Homo sapiens: one gene and its partner. The protein of the gene in region 1 purifies or fractionates together with the protein of each later gene. This does not show direct contact. Each region holds a gene or a part of one and is shown on either strand. Other genes may lie near its edges. The genes, in order: SS18L1 and BCL7A.

Evidence for each region.
Region 2: the proteins of SS18L1 (region 1) and BCL7A purify together in Homo sapiens (affinity purification with mass spectrometry; 2 studies listed by BioGRID and IntAct, with this or other methods). This does not show direct contact.

What each region holds. Positions count from the first base shown.
Region 1 is NC_000020.11:62,160,726-62,167,994, forward strand, and holds part of SS18L1 (calcium-responsive transactivator), read left to right. Parts: exon of another isoform or gene 1-710; coding exon 711-855; intron 856-2,026; coding exon 2,027-2,206; intron 2,207-2,732; coding exon 2,733-2,897; intron 2,898-3,419; coding exon 3,420-3,521; intron 3,522-4,696; coding exon 4,697-4,789; intron 4,790-7,269. UniProt on the Homo sapiens protein: Transcriptional activator which is required for calcium-dependent dendritic growth and branching in cortical neurons. Recruits CREB-binding protein (CREBBP) to nuclear bodies.
Region 2 is NC_000012.12:122,038,744-122,046,012, reverse strand, and holds part of BCL7A (B-cell CLL/lymphoma 7 protein family member A), read right to left. Parts: intron 2,128-7,269; coding exon 1,960-2,127; intron 1-1,959.

The DNA of each region.
Region 1 (7,269 bases):
TAAATGCCAGGATGTGTCTTGCGAGTAAAAATGTTAAACCCACCTCCATTGACCTGTCAAATTGCACTTCTTCACCCTGCAGACACCCACAGGTCCTGGTGGAAATTTCCTTTTCTTGGCCAGGTGTAGACAGCATGTGTGTGCAGACCTCCAGAGCTGCTGGTTGACCTTGATCTGGGAGAGTGCTGAGGGCCACTTCACACTCACTCCCTTCTGTGCGGTGTGATCCGAGGCGGGTGTGGGGTGGGGGTAGTCGGGGAAGGGGCACATGCAGCAGGAGCACGGGAAACAGGAGAGGGATCCCACCTCTGCCGAAGCTCTTGGCACGGAGGGGTCGTGGTTGGGGAGCACAGAGGCGCTGGTCACCTGCGCCCGAGGGGGACGGGGTGCGTTCAGCCTGGTGGGCCGGGAAAGGGGTTCCCTGCTGTCCCAGGAGGAGGTCCAGCTTTTCACACCCAGGCACGTGTGGATGAACTTGATACTCAGTAGGGTTGTGAACGCTCACCCAGATGCTCACTCTGCCATCTCCATCTGGGCCTGGTGCTCTGCGGTCACCTGGCTGTGACGATGGCTGCTGATTACGAACATTGACCAGGTGGCCATGATGTGTGGCGGCAAATCTCGGGTGCCCTCTCATCCCTGGCCTGGCTTGTGGAGGTCGCTCTCCGTAAATTAACCGTTTTTCCCTGAAAACTTCCTGTTGCCTGCAGCCGCCCACGCAGAACATGAACCTGGGCCCTGGAGCCCTGACTCAGAGCGGCTCCAGCCAGGGCCTGCACTCTCAGGGCAGCCTGAGTGACGCCATCAGCACGGGCCTGCCACCCTCCTCCCTCCTGCAGGGCCAGATTGGCAACGGTGAGTGCGGCGGGGGAGGAGGACGTTCCTGGCTACGAGGCCACCAAGGCAGCCCTTGGGCAGCCGGCTGCCATGGTGGGGCACCCCACCCCTCACAGGGCTGGGCATGGGACCCACTCCTCCTGGGGTAGCCACAGGTCGGCTGCCATCGCCCAGGCTCAGGGCCGCAGCGAGCGTGCCGTGCGGCTGGGCTGAGCCCCTGCTCCAGTTGTCCACTCTCTCTGACACTGTCACGTTCCATCAAATTCAAATGCAAGTTGCGGGGTTCCAGGTGGATTGTGTAATAGGAATGGAATGCTCCTGTCTTTGGATTGAGAAGCATGGATAACGTTTGGAGACCATTAACAGTAATATAACAGGCCGGGTGTGGTGGCTCAGATCTCTAATCCCAACCCTTTGTGAGGCCTAAACCAGCAGACTACTTGAGGCCAGGAGTTTGAGACCAGCCTGGGCAATATGGCAAAGCCCCATCTTTACAAAAAATAAAAATATTAGCCGGGTGTGATGGTGCACACTTGTAGTCCAAACTGTTAAATACTCGGGAGACTGAGGAGAGAGGGTCACTTGAGCTTGGGAGGGTGAGGCTGAAGTGAGCCTTGTTCATGCCACTGCCCTGCAGCCTGGGTGACAGAGCCAGACCCTGTCTCAGAAAATAATAACAAAATAACAACAAATAAACGATTCATCCTGTGCTTTGCTAGCATGTACGCTGCTTTGTTTTCTTTTCTTTTTTTTTTGAGACAGAGTCTCGCTCTAGTCGGCCAGGCTGGAGTGCAATGGGCATGATCTTGGCCCACTGCAACCTCCGCCTCCCGGGTTAAAGCAGTTCTCCGGCCTCAGCCTCCCAAGTAGCTGGGATTATAGGCACGTGCCACCACACCTGGCTAATTTTTTTGTATTTTTAGTAGAGACGGGGTTTCACCATGTTGTCCAGGCTGGTTTCGAACTCTTGACTTCAGGTGATCCACCCACCTCGGCCTCCCAAAGTGCTGGGATTACAGGCATGAGCCACTGCTCCCGGCCACTTATTTATTAGTCACTTAATCATTAATAGTGCTGTTGATAGCAACTCTTCCCAAAGTCACTTGAAGGGAAATTGGGGTGTCTTCACCTTCAGAAGTGGTGACCTGGCTCCCCAGTGCCTGACACCACTCCCTGCTCCCCATGCCAGGGCCGAGCCACGTGTCCATGCAGCAGACGGCGCCTAACACGCTGCCCACCACCTCCATGAGCATCTCTGGGCCCGGCTACAGCCACGCGGGACCCGCCTCGCAGGGCGTCCCCATGCAGGGGCAAGGCACCATCGGCAACTACGTGTCTCGGACCAACATCAACATGCAGTCCAACCCAGGTACCTACTCTGCCTCTGCAACCCCGGGGGGCCTGGGCCTGCCTCCAAGACCCTTGACACATGCACGTTGGACATGTGGTCCCGGGGAAGCTGCCCTCCTGCTGGGTGCTGGAGGGGAGGGGCCCGTGAATCGGGGCTGGCCGCTGCCTCTGAGAGCTTCCGGAGGGATGGGCGCCAGTGGGTGCACGATCAACTCCTCCTGTCCCCCAGCTTTGCGAGGGGCTGGGGTGTTTCCCATGGAGTCTCAGGGAATGCCCCAGGGAGTGGGGGCCACTGGCCCTGGGTCTGGACAGACAGCACTGGGCTCTCAGAGGTGGGGTAGAGTCGGTGCAAGCAGCGGGTCTGAGCTTGCAGGGCGTCAGTGCAGGCCACGTAGGGGAGGCGTGCCTTGCGGTGGAGGACGCTGTCCTCGTGGGGAGCACAGGAAAATAACGAGGAACCCGCCCGGGCGCAGGAGGTAGTTGGGTGTGGGAGGGAGGGCGGGAGGCTTCCCGGGGTGATGTGGGGCCTCTGTCCTGTCGTTCAGTCTCCATGATGCAGCAGCAGGCGGCCACGTCGCACTACAGCTCGGCGCAGGGCGGCAGCCAGCACTACCAGGGCCAGTCGTCCATCGCCATGATGGGGCAGGGCAGCCAGGGGAGCAGCATGATGGGGCAGCGGCCCATGGCGCCCTACCGGCCCTCCCAGCAAGGTAACGCCCGGCCGGGCCAGGTCGCGGGCACAGCTGACCGCCGCGGGTCGTGAAGTGCCAGGCTGTGTGTGCTTCTCTTCGGGGAGCCTGGGGGAGTGAGGCGGGGAGCCTGGGGGAGTGAGGCTTGGCGCCTTGGTGTTAACATTGAGTGTGGACCCTGGGGGTGAGGGCCAGGGTGTGGCCCGTGGAGGGTCTGCTGTCCCCGAGGAGTCAGTGTTGGGGGCAGGGGCGGCAGTTGTCATTAAGAGTGTCACAGGCCGGGCTCATGCCTGTAGTCCGAGCACTTTGGGAGGCCGAGGTGGGCGGATCACCTGAGGCCAGGTGCTCAAGACCAGCCTGGCCAACATGGTGAAACTCTGTACTAAAAATACAAAACATAAGTTGGATACGATGACAGCGTGGGGTGTTCTCCTCGGGTGGGTGAGGCCATTCAGCAAGGCCTTGGCTTCCCCAGTGAGCGAGCAGGTCCTCTGAGGGAGGAGGGCGCGGCCCGCACTGGCGCTGAATGTGGTTCCCCCGCAGGCTCTTCCCAGCAGTACCTGGGCCAGGAGGAGTACTATGGCGAGCAGTACAGCCACAGCCAGGGCGCCGCGGAGCCCATGGGCCAGCAGTACTACCCCGACGGTGAGCACTGGCGGCGGCCTGACCCCGCCCAGGAACGCAGAGCAGCTGCAGGGGCAAGGAGGGCAAGGAGGGCAAGGAGGGTGTGGCCACTGCAGTGTGTCCTCAGTCATTCCAGCTCAGGCCTGGGCTACAGGCAGAGTGGCCAGACGCCCTGCAGGAGCAAGGTAGGGGATGGGGTGAGCTGGGCTGGCAGTGGTGCCTGGCCTCTGCAGAGAGAAGCTGTGGCACACACCGCTGCACTGGCCTCCACGCGGCCTTGCCTCTACTTCCTGAAAGGCTGTGGGAGTTGGAGGCGGATAATTGTAGCTCCTAGCTGTAGATAGGTGGAAATGTTCAAGAAGGCGCCTCCCAGCTTCACAGAGAATGCCCTGAAGGTGACGGCTCCACCTGCAGCACCTCTCCTCCTGCACCTTCTCATCTCTGCAGAGTATTTTACCGTCGTCACCTTTCAGTCTTTGCATAGTCCCAGGGCTTGTGGAAGGGATACTGAAAGTGGTCTTGGCTGAAAACAGCGGTTCACACCTGTCATTCCGGCACTTTGGGAGGCTGAGGCAGGAGGATCGCTTCAGCCCAGGAGGTTGAAGCTGCATTGAGCCATGATCGCACCACCACACTCCAGCCTTGGTGACAGAGCAGGATCCTGTCTCTAAATAAAGTAAAAATAACAATAAAATAAAGTGGTCTTAAAGGCTGGATTGATCCCTGGGAGGCATCCAGGCAGGGAGCTGGCCTCAGCCAGCAAGGGGCAGGTGCACAGACAGGTGGGCAGGTGGCAGCAGGGCAAGCCACCCTGGCCACGTGATGGTCACATGCAGCGAAGGCCTCGGTAAGGGTTGGACACCCCTGCCTGCGTCCTCCCAGGAGCTAGCGGTGGCGGGGAGAAGGCAGTCGGGTCACTAGCATGGCTGTGTGGCAGGCACTGAAAGCGCTGATCCTCTGCATAAATCCCCAGGTAGCTTCACAGTCGCCCCGAGAAGGAGGCATTGATGTCTGCATTTCAGTGGGGAGGCCGAGGCTCAGGAGGTTGGGGCATGGTTTTGGGGAACACGGGTCCTGCCGGCTCTTGTTGCCTCCCTGGCCAGACAACATCTCCCCAGCCTGGGTCTCAGTTGCCTCCTCCGGGACCTGTGCAGTGCACAGCCTCCGCTGACTGTCGCCGTCTCCGTTTCGCACAGGCCATGGCGATTACGCCTACCAGCAGTCATCCTACACGGAGCAGAGCTACGACCGGTCCTTCGAGGAGTCCACGCAGCACTACTATGAGGGGGGTAAGGAGCACGGCTGCGTGCTGGGCTCGAGCGTAAGCGCCACACGCAGCAGAGTTAAGACGCTGCACCCTTAGGAGCACGCGGTGCCTGCCTTCAGTGAGTCCCTTAAATCACAGCACAGCGCGTGGGAGGAGAGACAGTGTGTTCTGGAAGCTGGAAATTCAGGCTGTGTCGGGAGCCCCGCTTGCCTTATGGGTGTGTTCGTGAGACAGGAAAGGATTCAGCCGGCCATGCTGGGGTTGGGGGCACAGACTTGGTTATTGGGTCCAGCCAGGGAGCGTGGGGCCTGCGACAGGAAGGATTCAGCCGGCCATGCTGGGGTTGGGGACACAGACTCTGTTATTGGGTCTGGCCAGGGATCGTGGGGCCTGCGAGCCACTCTCAGAGCTTCCTCAGCTGGAGGCCAGCAGTGGCTGCGCTGGGTGTGGCCTCGCGTTTCTTCAGACACCTGCAGGCCAGGAAACGCACATCTGTGGCTGGGGGCTTGCCGCCCTTCATGGCGGTCCTGGGCAGTGCTGCGCTGGGGGCTGCGTGTCGGGTGGACTTGCCCCTTTCTGTGGTGTCTGTGCCCCCACCCTGGCTGCCCTGAAACCCCAACAGAACATCCCAGAATGTGGAGTTGGGAAGAGGTACACACAGCCCGTTCCAGTCCCACCCCGGGATAAAGATGGCCCCCAGAGAAGAGCTGATGATCGCCTGCGGGATTGCGCAACCTCGTCCGGGAGGGAAGGCGGGCCTGCAGTCCCTGGGGAGAGGGGCCTCGTGTCTGCTGACGCTGACCGGCAGGCAGCAGTGGCTGAGGCCTTCCCACTGCAGGGCTGCAATTTATCAAGAGGTAACAGTGTTGGTGAGGCTTCACCAGGTACACAAAGCAGGCAGGCACTAAACGGCTACAGATTTCCTTGTTTGGGTTACTTCTTAAAGAATTGGATGTGTAAAGGTTTTGCTTCTGAGCTTACACATCTCAGCCTGCTGTGAAGAAATAAAGCACGCAAGTGTAGGCACATATAGAAACATCACGGTGTGCGCTACGAATGCCTGCAACGTTGAAATGTCAGTTACACCTTTGTAAACCTGGGGGAAACAAAAAGTACATGAATACATAATGAAAGTTTAAAAGAAGAAAGAGCCTAGGTGTTGTGGCTCACGCCTATAATCCCAGCACTTTAGGAAGCTGAGGTGGGTGGATCACCTGAGGTCAGGAGTTTGAGACCAGCCTGGCCAACACGGTGAAACCCCGTCTCTACTAAAAATACAAAAATTAGTTGGACGTGGTGGCATGTGCCTGTAATCTGAGCTACTCAAGAGGCTGAGGCAGGAGAATTGCTTGAACCCGGGAGGTGTAGGTTGCAGTGAGCTGAGATCATGCCATTGCACTCCAGCCTGGGCAACAAGAGTGAAACTTTGTCTCAAAAAAAATAAAAAGAAATAAAAAAAAGAAATGGCCAGGCATGGTGGCTTACGCCTGTAATCCCAGCACTTTGGGAGGCCAGTGGAGGAGGATTGCTTGAGCTCAGGAGTTTGTTTGTTTTTTTTTTTTTTTTTTTTTGAGACGGAGTCTCACTCTGTCGCCGAGGCTGGAGTGCAGTGGTATGATCTTGGCTCACTGCCACCTCCGCCTCCCAGGTTCAAGCAATTCTCCTGCCTCAGCCTCTTGAGTAGCTCGGATTACAGGCCCCGCCACCACACCCAGCTAATTTTTGTATTTTCAGTAGAGATGGGGTTTCATCATGTTGGTCAGTCTGGTCTCGAACCCCTGACCTCATGATCCACCTGCCTCAGCCTCCCAAAGTGCTGGGATTACAGGCGTGAGCCACCGCGCCCGGCCGAGCTCAGGAGTTTGAGGCCAGCATGGGCAACATGGCAAAACCCTTTCTCTCCCGAAAAAAAAAAAAAAAATGCCGGGCGTGGTGGCGGGTACCTGTAATCCCAGCTACTCAGGAGGCTGAGGTGGGAGAATCGCTTGAACCCAGAGGCAGAGGTTGCAGTGAGTTGAGATTGCACTACAGCACTCCAGCCTGGGTGACCGAGCCAGACCCTGTCTCAAAACAAAAGCCACCCTGTGGCCAGCACCCAGAGGCTATCTTCTGGCATATTGGCTGCAGTGGTGCCTCCGTAAGCCCTGGGAGTCAGCAGGATCTCTGCCATCATGGGCCTGGCCCTGTCCCTTCCAGCTGGAGCACAGGGTTCAGCCTTGTCCATGGCGAGGTGTCCACATGCGTCTGCCCAAGGCTGCCACACTTTGTCCCAAAAACAAACGCAGGATGTGCTGCTCAGCCTTTTAGTGTCTGATGTAGCTACTTTTTTTTTTTTTTTAAAGAGACAGGGTCTTGCCCTATCACCTAGGCTGGAGTGCAGTGGCCTGATCGTGGCACACTGCAGCCTGGAAATCCCAGGCTCAAGTGATCCTCCTGCTTCAGCCTCTCGAATTGCTGGGACTAAAGGCATGCACCACCAGGCCTGGCTTTTTTTTTTTTTTT
Region 2 (7,269 bases), on another chromosome or scaffold:
CACTGCAGCCTCGACCTCTCAGGTTCAGTCGATCCTCCTGGGACTACAGGCGCATGCCACCATGCCGGGCTCATTTTTATATTTTTTGTAGAGACGGGGTTTCGTCTTCTTGCCTAGGGTGGTCTTGAACTCCTGGGCTCAAAAGATCCTCCTGCCTCAGCCTCCCAAAGTGCTGAGATTATAAGCATAAGCTACTGTGCCCAGCCCAGAATGTCTTTATTTTTAAAAGACACGTGCTGACATGTTTAGGGATGAAATGTCCTGAGATCTATAACTTACTTTCAAATGGTCCCAGAAAAAATACAAAGCAAAAGAAACCCAAAAGCCAACAATTGCCAAGTTCAGCAGGTGGATATATAGGACAGTATTATGCCATTCTTTTAATTTTTCTGTAGAGACTCAAAATAAACACACACAAATATTTGTGTACACATTCACACAATCACACACACACTCTCACACAATCACCCCATCATCTGTTCTTAATCCTTCAGATCATGTCACCCAAGCCCCCAGTGGCTCCCGTCTTACCATGAAAACCCAGGCCAGGCAGTGGCCTTACGAGCCCCCCACACCTGAGGCGCTGCCTGCTGTCTGACCCCGTATTATTATTAACTTTTTAAAATTTTTCTGAGACAGAGTCTTGCTCTATCGCCCAGACTGGAGTGCAATGGCACAATTTCGGCTCACTGCAACCTCCGCCTCCTGGGTTCAAGTGATTCTCTTGCCTCAGCCTCCTGACTAGCTGGAATTACAGGCACATGCCACCACACTCTGCTAATTTTTGTATTTTTAGTAGAGACAGGGTTTCACCGTGTTGGCCAGGCTGGTCTTGAACTCCTGACCTCAAGTGATCCGCCTGCCTCGGCCTCCCAAAGTGCTGGGATTACAGGCGTGAGCCACCGCGCCTGGTGCCCATCTTATTTTCCAGCTCCTCACTCACTCTTACCTCTGCCCACACTGCTCTCCTCCCAGATCCCCACATGGCTTGCTCAGTCGCCCAGTTTGAGCCTTGTCTTATTCAAAGGCCGCCCCGACCACCCCATTTAAAACTGCAACTCTCCAGGTCATTCAGCAAGACCCCCCACCCCTTTCCTACTTTATAATTCTCTGCCACACTTATCTTCCTAATACTAGGTTGTCTGATTTTTAAATACATTTAAAATTTATTAATATAATTATATTTTGAGCCAGGGTCTCACTCTGTCACCCAGGCTGGAGTTCAGTTGTGTGATCACGGCTCACTGCAGCCTCCAACTCCTGAGCTCAAGGGATACTCCCGCCTCAGCCTCTTGAGTAGCTGGGACCACAGGCACATGCCACCATGCCCAGCTCATCTTAAAGCATTTTTTTGTAGAGACAGGGTCTTGCTATGCTATCCAGGCTGGTCTCAAACTCTTGGCCTCAAGTGATCCTCCTGCTTCAGCCTTCCAAAGCATTAGGATTATAGGTGTGAGCCACCATGCCTGGCCAATTGTTTGATTTTTATTTATTTACTTATTATTGAGACAGGGTCTTATTGTCACCCAGGCTGGAGTGCGGAGGCATGATCATGGCTCACTGTAGTAGTCTTGACCTCCTGTGCTCAAGTGATCCTCCGACCTCGGCCTCCTGAGTAGCTGGATCACAGGTGTGTGCCACCACACTTGGCTATTTTTTTTTTTTTGGTAGAGATGAGGTCTTGCTATGTTGCCCAGGCTGGTCTTGAACTCCTAGGCTCAAGCAGTCCTCACACCTTGGCCTCCTAAAGTGCAGGGATTACAGGCATGAGCCACTGCACCTGGCCTGTCTGATTTTTTTAATTCCCCCACGAGACCATGTACTCCAGGTGTCACCTCTCTTTACTGTCTCCTTGCTGGGGCTGGCACATGACAGGGCCTCCTGGAACACCTAGCCACAGACTGCCTGAAGGCCGGTTACAGGGAGGCCGTCAGAGCCCCACCTCCAGAGGCCACATACCTTCAGCTCCTGGGTGCTCCTTCCCATCAGCCTGGGCCTCATCCACCTTGGCCTCGGTGCCGTCGCTGGGCACAGCCGAGTTGGGCTCTGGAGCGGGGCTGGAGTTGCTGCTGTTCTCCTGTTTGATGGGGGAGGCATCTGCGATGGAGCTCTGGTTGCTGTTATCGTCTGTAGGGGGTGGGAACAGAACCACAGGATGAAATCCCACAGCTGCCAAGGACGGGTAGGTCAGAGGGCTCAGCATCCCTGTGCCTCAATGCCCGGAACCCCATGGCAGCTCTCCCGGGGAGGGGTCTGGTTACCGTTTTTTTTTTTTTTGAGACGGATCTCGCTCTGTCAACCAGGCTGGAGGACCGTGGTGCAATCTTGGCTCACTGCCTCCACCTCCCGAGTAGCTGGGATTACAGGTACTTGCCACCACGCCTGGCTAATTTTGTATTTTTAGTAGAGATGGGGTTTCACCATGTTGGCCAGACCCGTCTCGAACTCCTGACCTCAGGTAATCCTCCTGCCTCGGCCTCCCAAAGTGGTGGGATTACAGGCGTTGAGCCACTGCACCCGGCCGTGTGGTAGGGGTCTGGATACTGGATACGCCTCCTCCTGGGACCCCTGAGCTCACTCCCGCCCCCTGACCCCCACCCACCCACCCACCCAAGCACCACAGCCATCCCATGTGTCCAGAGAGGCAAAGAATTCCGGCACTGGCCTGACCTTCCCCACACTGAGCCAACTGTACCCTGCGTCTGGAGGCAGCCAGCTGGGGATGGTGGCCTAACATATTTAAAATCCTGGGGGGACATTTGAGGCCTCATTCTGGGTGTAGAAACCAGACGTCTTGTGTGTCTGGCAGGGAAGCGATACAGAAGACACGGCATGGTCCGTGAGGCGGGATTGCCAAGGCGTTCTGTCTGACTGCATCCAGCCTGGAGCTGAGTTCCACTTGATAGGAAATAAAAGGGAGAGAGAGACAGCGGGAGGTGGCATATTCCACGGGACACGTGGTCCACTCCCTTAAAGTCAGTATCATATTTAAAAAAAAAAAAAAGTTGGGGGAGGGGAGATGACTTTAGAATAAAGAAAGCTAGGAGACTCGACTAAATATGATGTATGGAAATGATTTGGATCCTGTTTCAAACGTGCCAGCTGTAACACTTTGGAACAATTGGGGAATTTGAATATGGTCTGGGTTTTAAAAGCTATTAAGGAACTGTTGTTAATTTAGTTAGAAGTGATCATGGGACAGTGGGTATGTAGAAACGTCATATTTTCAGCAATGCATGCTATGACGTTTAGGTGCAGACTTGAATGTCATGAGGCAGGGAAATTTACCAGAAAATACTTCAGTGCAGGCTGCCGGCCACTGTCAGGACTCCCTGAACTTTTACACTTTTTTTTTTTTTTTTTGAGATGGAGTCTTGCTCTGTCGCCCAAATTGGAGTGCAATGGCGCGATCTGGGCTCGCTGCAACCTCCACCTCCTGGGTTCAAGCAATACTCCTGCCTCAGCCTCCCAAGTAGATTACAGGCGCCTGCCACCATACCTGGCTGAGTTTTGTATTTTTTAGTAGAGACGGGTTTCTCCATGTTGGCCAGCCTGGTCTCGAACTCTTGGCCTCAGGTGATCTGCCCACCTCAGCCTACCAAAGTGCTGGGATTACAGGTGTGAGCCATCACACCCGGCCACTAGCTGTGTATTTTTTATATGTGAATTATATTTTAATTACAAAAATCTAACACATTGAAAAAATAGATGAGACAAATGTGGCACCGTGTTCATGAAAATCAAGGTGGAGTGTACAGGGGGATCGTATTCCTCTCTCTACTGTTCTTGACAACAAAACCCTTCACAATACAAAGAAGAAAGAGAAGGGGTAATTGGGCAATGGCATTTACAGTTGGGCTGGGGGCAGAGCTGGGGCCCGGGCTGCACCTCCCCTTGTCCTGCACCCCCTTCTCAGGCACAGAGTCACTCTATTTATTTTTTTGAGATGGAGTCTGTCACCCAGGCTGGAGTGCGGTGGCGCGATCTCGGCTCACTATAATCTCCACCTCCTGGTTCAAGCGATTCTCATGCCTCAGCCTCCCAGGTAGCTGGGATTACAGGCATGCACCAACATGCCCAGTTAACTTTTGTTTTTATTATTTTTTAGTAGAGACGGGGTTTCGCCATGTTGGTCAGGCTTGCTCTTGAACTCCTGACCTCAGGTGATCTGCCCGCTTCAACCTCCCAAAGTGCTGGGATTACAGGAGTAAGCCACCACACCCAGCCATTTATGTATTTTTTATTTTTAGAGACAGGGTCTTGCTCTGTTGCCCAGGCTGGAGTACAGCAGCACAATCATAGCTCACTGCAGCCTCGAACTCCTAGGCTCAAGCCATCCTCCTGCCTCTGCCTCCTGAGTAGCTGGGGCCACAGGCATGTGCCACTGCATCTGGCTAATTTTTAAGTTTTTTGTAGAGATGGGGTCTCACTATGTTGCCCAGGCTGTCTTGGACCCCTGGGCTCAAGTGATCCTCCTGTCTTGGCCTCCCAAAGCACTGAGATCATAGGCCTGAGCCACTGTGCCCAACCTAGGAGAGTCGTTTTAAACAGCAGAGACCCAAGTGGAGGTTTCAAAACCAAAGCAGCCTTTCTGGGGGCCATGCTGCACCCGGGGCGATGGCCACTTTTGTAAACATGAGAAAGAGACAGAGACACCCCAACAGACCTGGGCACCTGCCACCATGCCAGGCACTGGGCAGAAGCATTTATGGACACCTCGTGGAATCCTCCCCACAACCCGTTGGAAAGGCACCGTTACCACCTTCACTTTCCGGAGGGGGAAACTGAGGCTGGGAGCAGCAGAGCCACTTGCCGGACCCATCTGCCCAACTCCCAGCCCCACGCCCCTCCTCTACCTCAACCTGCCGAGGAAGCACCAGGCAGTCAGGCGGCCCCACACGGGTAACCTGGATCTGATTTTAACTGTACTCTGGGGTGCTCGTTACACAAAAGCATCCTCTTGTGAATTCTGGGACTTAAAAAAAAAAAAGAAGGATGTGTGCTCCCCGATTTCTCCCTTGAGAAAAACTAGACTTCCTTCCTATGGCAAGCACACGCGCAAGAGGCTGGCCCCGTAGGTTCCTGAGGCTCTGTTAATGAATGACAATGAGCACTAATGTTTAACGTCTGGTCTAGCCTGGTAGCCTGGTAACAGCGTGACCCTGATACTTGGGCTAACTTCAGCTGAGTCTTGTGGACTAAAGGGCCCGGGGCACCGCCCTCTCCTTCATCCCCTGCTGTACCCATCCTCCCACTTGAAGCCTTCCAGAAAACTTGCCCGGCCCACACCTTTCCCTGACCTTCCCATTTACACACTCTGCAGTCTGACTGGCTTTCGGCTGCACGTGCACTAAAATGAAAATCAGAAAGTCAACAGGGCACCTGTGTCTGGGGACCTGGTTTGTTCAGCATCCTAGATTTTTCTGGAGAGTTTATCCAGGTCACAAATCTGGATCTTTTGGTTTTTTTTTTTTTTTTTTGGAGACACGGCCTCACTCTCTTGCCCAGGCTGGAGTGCAGTGGTGCAATCTTGGCTCACTGCAACCTCCCCTTCCCGATTCAAGGGATTTTCCTGCCTCAGCCTCCCGAGTAGCTGGGATTACAGGTGCCCACCACCATGCCCGGCTAATTTTTGTATTTTTAGTAGAGATGGGGTTTCACCATTGTTTGGCCAGGCTGCTCTCCAACTCCTGACCTTAAACGATCCTCACAACTTGGCCTCCCAAAGTCCTAGGATTATGGGTGTGAGCCACCACGGCCAGCCACAAACCTGGATTCTGTCTTCAAAGAACCAACCTCAAATGCCATCAATGGCACTGGAAGTTATGAACTTGCTAACCATGCATGTTACTTCACCTCACTGGGCCTTAGTTTCTCCATCTGTAAAATGCGGTTGGTTATTAGACTCAAATGAGGCAATGATGTAACGGGCTTAGCACAATACTTGGCACATTGTGACGGTTTCATAAATGTGAGCTGTTAACATGCCAAGGTTTTTAAAATTTTTATTATAGGCTGGGCACAGTGGATCATGCCTATACTCCCAGCACTTTGGGAGGTTGAGGGAGGAGGATTGCTTGAACTCAGGAGTTTGGAAACAGCCTGGGCAACATAGCAAGACCCTGTCTCTATTTTTGAATACAGTAAAATAATTTTTTTTTTTTATGGAGTCTTGCTCTGTCGCCCAGGCTGGAATGCAGTGGCATGATCTCAGCTCACTGCAACCTTTGCCTCCAGGTTCAAGTGATTCTCCTGCCTCAGCCTCCCAAGTAGCTGGGATTACAGGCGTGTGCCACCACACCCAATAATTTTTGTATTTTTAGTAGAGATGGGATTTTACCATAGAGACCAGGCTGGTCTCCAACTCCTGACTTCAAATGATCCTCCCATCTCGGCCTCCTAAAGTGCTGGGATGACAGGCATGAGCCACCACACCTGGCCCAAAATAAAATATTTACTATAATTATATTATATATTATATTATATAATATATATAATATATATATTATATATATATATATATTTAAGAGATGGGGTCTTGCTCTGTTGCCCAGAGTGGAATGCAGTGGTGCAATTACTGTTCACTGCAGCCTCCAACTCCCAGGTTCAAATGATCCTCAGCCTCCAGAGTAGCTGTGACTATAGGTGCGCATCACCACAACCTGCTAATTTAAATTTATTATTATTATTATTTTTTTTTTTAATCTATTTTTTTTTAGACTGAGTCTTGCTCTGTCGCCCAGGCTGTAGTGCAGTGGCGTGATCTTGGCTCACTGAAAGCTCCACCTCCCAGGTTCACGCCATTCTCTTGCCTCAGCCTCCCGAGTAGCTGGGACTACAGGCACCAGCCACCACGCCTGGCTAATTTTTTTGTATTTTTAGTAGAGATGGGGTTTCACCGTGTTAGCCAGGATGGTCTCGATCTCCCAACCTCATGATCTGCCCGCCTTGGCCTCCCAGAATGCTGGGACTATAGATACGAACCACCTATTGTTTTTTTTGTAGAGATGAGGTCTCCCTGTGTTGCCCAGGCTGGTCTCAAACTCCTGGGCTCAAGTGATCCTCCTAACTCGGCCTCCCAAAGTGCTGGGATTACAGGTGTGAGCCACTGTGCTTGGTCCCATGCCAAGGTTTTTAAGAGATTATTTAATTTAATCCTCACAGTGAGTTTATGAAGTAGGCATTACCATCCCCATTCTACAGATTAAAACTAAACAAACCCCAAAGCTAGAGGTTAAACAAATAGCCCAAGATCACACAGCCAGGGGA